Linked DNA regions of Homo sapiens: all the other regions are linked to region 3. Evidence: fine-mapped QTL for protein levels in blood plasma. A gene starts in region 3. Each other region holds a variant in brackets. All regions are shown on one strand. Distances are between the middles of the regions. Region 1 overlaps GPC5 (glypican 5). Region 2 has its middle 22 kb from the start of GPC5. Region 3 holds the start of GPC5 (glypican 5).

Evidence for each region. PIP is the chance, under the fine-mapping model, that this variant and not a neighbour inherited with it causes the effect. Sun 2018 read protein levels with aptamers (SomaScan).
Region 1: its variant is fine-mapped to the plasma level of the GPC5 protein (Sun 2018, PIP 0.95).
Region 2: its variant is fine-mapped to the plasma level of the GPC5 protein (Sun 2018, PIP 0.95).

The regions. Positions count from the first base shown.
Region 1 is chr13:91,769,138-91,771,902 of GRCh38, reverse strand. The region is part of intron 5 of GPC5 (glypican 5); the gene reads right to left. Among named protein-coding and RNA genes, the nearest start is that of GPC5, 370 kb to the right of the region's middle. The variant C/A (reference allele first, on the strand shown) is at 1,211.
Region 2 is chr13:91,375,615-91,378,379 of GRCh38, reverse strand. No RefSeq gene overlaps it. Among named protein-coding and RNA genes, the nearest start is that of GPC5, 22 kb to the left of the region's middle. The variant C/GC (reference allele first, on the strand shown) is at 1,281.
Region 3 is chr13:91,397,572-91,400,336 of GRCh38, reverse strand. GPC5 (glypican 5) reads right to left here and starts at 1,716. Exons shown (of 8, transcript NM_004466.6): 1 at 1,128-1,716. The coding sequence starts at 1,290. LOC124903189 (a long non-coding RNA gene) reads right to left here. Exons shown (of 2, transcript XR_007063831.1): 2 at 2,749-2,765. RefSeq lists silencers at 1,632-1,901, 1,608-1,902.

The DNA of each region.
Region 1 (2,765 bases), 370 kb before region 3:
GATTTTTATTTGCTCTTATTTTATTTGACAATGTGTGCTTGTATTTTATTTGAAATGCACTGGCATTTCTATTGTTCTGAAGTAAGATATCATATCTTTCTGTATTTTGTAAAAATATATGATGATTCTATTATAACATTTTTATGAATCATTATATTTTTAATTTTTTCCTTTTTCGGAAAACAACTAAAAGGACTTGGTAAAAAAATTACGGAAGCACATAGAAATATAATCAATCAACTTTTCCTCCTACACATGTCCTTTAACCCTCTTCTTCTGTAGCATTTTCATATCACTAGCTGTAAGGCTATCTCCTTCTTTATAAAAATCAAAATTATATTCTTCATTTTAGTCTGCCATAACCATTTAATTATTTCCTTATTAATGGAGATTTTGGTTGTTCTACCTTGTGCTAGCATAAAATATGTGCAATTCATGCTCTTTTGTTTACATGGATGAAATAGATGATTCAAAGGTCATGTGTATTTGCAATATTGATACATGTTGCCCAGTTACCCTTCAAAGACGCAAGAATAGCTTCCCCTCTATTGGGATGTTGAAATACCTTTTTCTCTACCTGCTGGTCAATGCTATGAATTATCAAATTTAATGATCTTTGCAAATATAAGTGAAAAAATAGTTATTTGATTTGTATTTATTTGATTTTTAACATTGAGGGTGAGAATTTTGTTTCTTTGTTTAAAAGTCACTGTTATGTTCTGTAAATTATCTATTCATGCACTTTGCCTAATTTTCTATCAGATTTTTGGCATTTTCCTAATTCATTTGAGGAAGTATTCATTCATTTAGTGGCAGGGTGACCTTTTGTGAGAAAAGTTGTATACGCTTTATTCTCAGTGTGGTTATGTGTTTGTAGTTTCTTTATGGTATGCATTTCTCTGCAAAGAAGATTTATATTTTCCAGATAACACAAACATGACAGACTTTCATTCACTATGAATAATAAGTTTTTATTTTTTACAGGTATGTTTCTGGTTTTGTTCTCTTTTTTATTCTCCCTCTCATGTATACCACACAAAAATTGGCCAATTTGAAATAAGATGTTTGTTTTCCCTCAAACTTTATATTCACATTTACCCTTCATAAAGCATTCAAATTATATAAATCTTTGCTTGTGTGAAATAAGAAATATGCATATGCATACACACACACACACACACACACACACACACACACAAACACACAGTCT[C/A]CCCAGTCTTTGAACCAGAGCTCCTAAAGCGGCGACTGGGATAATTTTCAGGTCTAATATTTGGTCCTTGACCCCATTTCCTGACACATAGTGTCTAAGACCTTTGTAATTTCCTGAGTGATAGGAGCAAGCATCTAACACATTCCTCCTAAATCCTCTGGAGTTTCCTGGGTGATAGGAGCATCTTTTTTTCTAATGAGATAATTTCTGATGGCCTCTTGGATGGGGGCTGGTCACCAGAAAAACCAAACCATGATTAGAAGCTTGGAATTTTCAGGTTGACTTTCCATTCTCCAGAGAGGAGAGGGGCTGGGAATGGAGTTAATCAGTTGATGATGGATTAATACTCAATGATTGATTGATCATGTCTACATGATGAAGCCTGAATATAAATCCCAAAAGTAGGGTGTTCTGAGAGCTTCCAGGTTGCTGAACATATGAAAATGCTGGGAGGATGGCATGCCCAGAGAGGACCTGCAAGCTCCACATTCCTTCTTCCATTGCTTGCCCAGTGTATTTATTCCCTTTGGCTGTTCATGAATTGCATCCTTTATAATAAAAGAGTAAACACAGGTAAAGTGTTTCTCTGAGTCCTGTGAGCCATTCTAGCAAATGATAAAACCCAAGAAGGGACTCATGAGAATCTCCAATGTGTAGCCAAGTCATATGGAAGTTGTGCATAATCTGGGGACCTACTACTTGTGAGTGGCATCTAAAGTGGGGGGCATCTTGTGGGACTAAGCCCTTAACATGTGAGGTCTGTGGTAACTCAGGTTAGTGTGGTAATTCAGTTGAATTATACGACATACAGTTGGTGTTCAAAGAGAACTGGACAGTTGCTTGGTGTGGGAGAAACTCCCACACTTCTGGTCACAGAATTGTTCTGTGTTGAGTGTGAATACAGAGGAAAACAGATTCTCCCCACCCCCATCCCAGGTGGAAACCACCAATGACTTCTCAAAGCACATAGAATAAAATCCAAGCTTCTTCCCGGGCTTATTTGACCTGACACTTGCCCAAGCTACAGTCTCATTCCAGACAATCCTCCAGCATCATCTGCATCACCCTGAGCCACACACGCTGATTTCCCTTCTGTTCCTTAGACACATGAAGCATGATATTCTCTCTACTTGGAAAATTCAGATCTTTCCACATATTCAGCCTAAATGTGATTTCCCCAGAGAAGGTTTTCCTGGATACTCAATCTAACATGCCCTTAACCCAACTTCTATGGCATTAGCTTCATGAGAGCACAGGCTTGCCATCTCATTCCTCACCTAAAATACTACCTGTGATAATTAGTTTTATATGGCAACTTGGCTAAGCTGTAGTACCCAGTGGGTTTGGTCAAGTAGCAGTCTACACGTTGCTGTGAATGTATTTTTTAGATGTTATTAATACTTAAACCAGTAGACTTGGAGTAAAGCATCTTAGCCTCCATAATGTTGGTGGTCCTCATTCAATCAATTGAAAGCCTTAGGAGATACTAAGGTCCCCAGAAGAGGATGGAATTCTACCTTCAGACCACCTTTGGACTCAAGACTGCAACTTCTGG
Region 2 (2,765 bases), 22 kb after region 3:
TTCTGAAAGTTGACAATTTTATATTTAGCTAAGTAAAATTATCAACCATTCCAAAATGATTGAGTACCTGTTTACCATTTTGGTATCTCAAGGAGATTTGCCATATATCTCAAACAAATTGAACATCCTTTTATATTTATATAAATATCAAAACTTTCTGCTAATAGTCTCACCCTTTGCCTTCCACTGTGATGTAAGCTTCCTGAGGCCTCCCCAGAAGTGGAGCAGATGTTGGTGCCATGATTTCTGTAAAGCCTGCAAAACCGTGAGCCAATTTAACCCCTTTTCTTAAAAAAAAAAACTAATAGGAACGATAACAAAAAAAGTATTATATTGTCTTTCCAAGTACCTTATTTGAAATTGTCATTCTACAAACAGTCATTAAATTTTATTAAAATAGTTTAGTTGAATTCAGTCATGTGTATGTACTTAAGCATAATCAAATTATAATATTTGCATATTTTAAATTTAAATTAATTTTAGTTATTGTTATTTTTCCAACTTACAACAGGATGAAAACATATTAATAGTGCAGTCTGCTCCTGGTTTTGTCCATGTTGAGGCTCACTATTGGTCTGCTTGACTCTGGTTTTTTCTACATGTAAACTCCTCTGCCATCTCCACATTGTGGAAAACATGACCACTCACAGCTCAGGAACCTCAACTGAAAGACCTAACACTTCCCCAACAGTTGTGGAAGCAGAGTCTCATGAATTCTTGTGTCAAATGCTTATGCCACTACCCATCATTCTCACTCAGACTGGTCAGATATCCACTGTCATGACCAGAGATGATTGGGATGATCTCTGTCTGTCTCACTCATTCCCCACATTTAAATGGAGTTCTCTTACCAGAAATCAAGTAGGAAAAGTACAGATGTATCCACAGTCTACCTAGGAAAAACACACCCTTTTTTTTTTTTTGAGACGGAGTCTCGCTTTGTCTCCCAGGCTGGAGTGCAGTGGTGCAATCTCGGCTCACTGCAAGCTCCACCTCCCGGGTTCACGCCATTCTCCTGCCTCAGCCTCCCGAATACCTGGGACTACAGGCGCCCGCCACCACGCCCAGCTAATTTTTTTGTATTTTTAGTAGAGATGGGGTTTCACCATGTTAGCCAGGATGGTCTCGATCTCCTGATCTACTGATCCGCCCGCCTTGGCCTCCCAAAGCAAGCACAACACAAGGACTGTGATCACAGGGAAGATTAAGTTGCATCTTGTACCCTGGTTTAAATGTAATCAGTTTAGGTTTTCTTCCCTTATCCTGAAAGAATACTTGGG[C/GC]AGGCCCATGATTTTTGTGGTTACTCAGAAAATAAAAAGTTCTTCAGTTAATGGTAAACACAGTTTTGACTTAAAAATTGGAATGTCCAGTATAAAATATTAAACACAATTTCAAACTTGATTTATCATCAAAAGTTCTTTTATCCTAAGCTTGGAGCCTCTCTCTCCGGAGGTATGCCATAGGGAAGCCAAGGTGAGGAGAAGTGGGAGGAAAGAGGGTGTGTCCCTCAGCTCTCTGCCTTCACCCTTTTTCTCTTCAGGGAGTCCATGACAGACTGTCTCCTACAGTGCCCTGTTCAGGCAGATGTCTATTTCACATTGTCTTCTGCCAGTTTCAATAACTTTAGGCCTATATGTGTTCATCTTCATTCTTTTTCTTTTTTTGTAGAAAGAGGGACTTGCTGTGTTGCCCAGGCAGGCCTTGAACTCCTAGCCTCAAGCAATCCTCCTGCCTTGGCCTCCCAACGCACTGGATCCCAGGTGTAAACCACTGCACCTGGCTGCTATCTTCGTTTTTTTCTGCTGAGGTTTCTTGGCTCTTATTAGACAAGATCCATGACATCCTACACATGTCCCACTTCTGTACCGTCTGTGCATATTTGTTACCTGGCCTCTTCTGGCCAATATACATAATAACAACTCTGTCCAGTAAAATCACTTAACCAATTTTACTCAGTAGAGCCCTTTTCTTTCTAATTCTGCATATGTCAGCTTCATGAGGGCAGAAAGCTTAAACAGGTTTGTTTATTGCTCCATCCTCAGCACATGGACTAACAAGTGTCATGTAATAGGCACTCCATGTTGAATGCATGAACATGAAGTTGGGATCATCTGCTCTCATTAAGATATCCTGATATTGATCACTGATGGCTCTGTCAGAACGGAGACAGGAAAGATCCAGTTTTAGCATCATTTTAGACACGCACAAACAATTCCCACATTTCCTCTTCCTAATATAGTAAATACCATTATCCCACTTATAACTGAAAATGTGCTTACACTTCCCCAGAGGCCAGCAACACAAAATCAAATCCAGCTACTCTGTAAAACTGTATGTCCAGGATCTCTAGAGAAGCACATTTTTCTTATTCTGATGAGCATGTGACTTGTCATGTGTGGCAAAGGTTGACTAAATTGTAAGTTTAACCCTCCTGTGTTCTGGTTATCTATTGTTGAGTCACAGGCTACTCTAAAACTAGTGACTTAAATCAATGACATTCATTCTGTTCATAAATGTGCAATTTGGGCAGGGCTTGGTGGGGACACGTTATCCATGCTCCTGTTGGAGTTAGCTGAAACAGCTTGAAAACTGATGGCTGGCATCATCTGAAGGCTCAGTTATTAACATTTAGTTGATGCTGACTCTCAGTAGGACCTCTGCTGCGGTCATGACCAGAATCCTAGCACACGGGTTCTTCATGTGGATACTTAGCTTCCTCAGCGCATGGTGGCTTGGTTCCACCTTAAGAGAATCAAGCAGAAGCC
Region 3 (2,765 bases):
ATTTTCTTTCTGGGATGACTTAAAATTGAGCAAAGCAATCAAGAAAAGCGGCTACAGCTCACACTTCCTCATTGCTACAAGCAAGTCCCCCAACCCTGGAAACTCGGGACTTTAGACTTAAGCGTCCTCCACAAGTTCTTTGTTCAACCAGTAACCTCACAGATTCGTCTGTGTTGGCTTCATAGTCACAGCTAAAGGGGTGCATGGCTCTAGTGAGATCTTACTTAGCTCTAGACACCTGCTATTGCGTTTGACAGCTATGACCTATTCTTCCAGACAGAACCTACACTGGAACTCCCACCAGCAGAAGGAAATTGGTGCGGTGGAAACGGGGAGCAGGGTTCGAAAGCACAGGCAAAAGGCGCTCACAGGAAGCAAGATCCACGCTGGCCACACAAACTGTATCTTTCCCTTTGGAACGCTGGTACATCTCATCCATGTCAAGTGACTCCCCAGTACGTTCGGTTTGATCGCCTGTTGCCCTAACACTTTTCAGGCTAAAAACTACCTTGGTGCTGGGAGACACACTGGGTGGTTGGGTTTCCTCCAAGCAGGGCTTGATACGAGGGCACAGAAGGGCAGCTAAGGGTCACGTCTCTGGGTGCACAGGGTCCAAGTCCTAATTACAGAGGAGACCGGCTGCCCTTGTCTGTGCCCCATTCTCCAGCAAAGGGGTATATCGCAGGTTTGTGATTTTTAGTACCAAACTTGGGGCGATCAATTCAATTCCCTCCACCTTATGAGAAAGCAGTAAACCGAAATCCCCGGTGGGGCACTGGGGAAATTCCTACTCGGAAGAGAAACGGAGTTAGACTGCGTGTCCCCCACGCCCTGATGTCTGCTTTCCTGGTTCCTTCCAACTCATCCTCCAAGACGAAGGGAGCCGGGCGGGAAGCAGATGCCCAGAACGGGGATTCGTCGCAGGCTTGGTTAGGGGTCCCCAGAGCTGCGCTGCGCTGCACTCAGGCTACCCGCACCAAGCATCCCCGGAAGCCTCCCCGGGATTCACCCTGCGCGGCTGCAGGGCCCGAAAGGTCATCTTCCCACGAGTGCCACCAAGGGAGCCTGGGGGAGCGAAGGCCGGGCTCGGACGCCGCCAGTCCAGAGACCCCCTCATTGCCCCTTACCTGCCCGCGGCGAATCCGGCAGCCCCCTGACAGCTCCCAGCAGCCGCCACTGGAAAAGTTTCCGAACTTCTTCGCAGGTCTGCACGCCCTCGCTGCGGGCGGACCCAACCAGGGCCAGAAGGAGGAGGCAGCGAAAGCCCACGGGCCAGGTCTGTGCGTCCATCCTCGCCGTCCTGGTCCCCTTTACCCGCCAGTGGACCCCACTCGCCCTGCGCGCCCTGGCTGAGCTGCAGACGTGGAAGACACAGCGGCCGAGGCTCTCGAGCGGTGCGAGCCGGCTGCGGGGTGTACGGACCGCCCGCGGGCACCGGCTTCACCTGGGAGCAGTTAGCTCTTCCCGGAGGAGGCCCTAAGCTGAGACACCAGAGTTTTCCAGCTGAGCACCCTCTGGTCTTCTTCCCTAGCCGAGAAGAGTGGGCGGCTGGGCGGGGCGAAGAAAACTAGTGGAGCCGCAGGGAGCCCGCAAGCATCCGCTCTGGCCACCACTGCTGCAACTGCTGCCGCTGCCGCCACTGCCGCCACTGCCGCCACTGCCGCCGCCGCCGCCGCCTCCGCCGCCCGGCTCGGCTCGCAGCAGCTAACCTGGGATGTGCCCGCTCGCTGCGCTCCGCGGAAGCCCCGCCCCGCACTCCCCGCCCCGCGGACAGGCCACGCCCCTGCCACGCCCCCGGCGCGCTGTCCCGCTCCGCACCCACTAAGATGCTGTCATACGCGGCCCAGTGCTGAAGACTCGGAGCGACATCGATGCAAATAAATAGAAGGAAACCCGGACCTCGCTCTCCCAGTCCGTTCTGGGGAAGAATCATCTGATAAAAACAGAGAATGTATAAATAGGGTCAGAGAAGACAAGAGATGAGAAACACCAACTGGAACTAAGAAATATCTCATCTATGTAATCAAGGTCCTCAGTACATAGGAATTTGTATTCTAATTGCATTAAATAGGATCTGGACATAATACAAAAGGCAAAAACTATTTACGGTTAAAGATCTCAATTGAGAGACTTCATAACACTTAGGTTGTTAAAGAGTGCACATGAGAAGTTATTTTTTAAAATGGCTTTGTTTTACTGCTTAGGAACATTTTTCTATAACATGATTTTCTGAAAGGAGGTATAAGAATTACAATCAAACTTTATCACATTCTTATCACAATGAAATCTAGTTTTAAGTCTCTTATCACCATTTAGCATCATATTTTACTTCAGCACTTTGTATTTGTGGGGCTCCTCTGAGCTTTACCACTTCTGGAATTTCTTTAAAATATTTTTCAGAGAGCAATTAAGTTAAGAGTGCTCAGGGGAGTTCCTTACAAGGAATATAGAAAAATAAATACTTTAAGCAATTTTAAAATGGCAAAGGAATTTTGTCAATTTACAGTTTATGAGAGGAATGCATTACGCACCATAAACCAAAGGGCAGGTGCATTTTTTAAATGTGGTTGACTCAACAACTAAGCCTGTAAGAGTGTCTCAATCTACAGCCACTTGAAGAGAGTACTCCTTCTGTAAAATAAACTAGTTAAAAGCATCAGGCAGAGGGGACAATGAATGCTTTAACCACTTTAAGGAATTTCATCTCAAATTTGAACCCTTACCAAGAGATAGTAGTGAAAAACTTTATGTCTTAGTGAAGATTT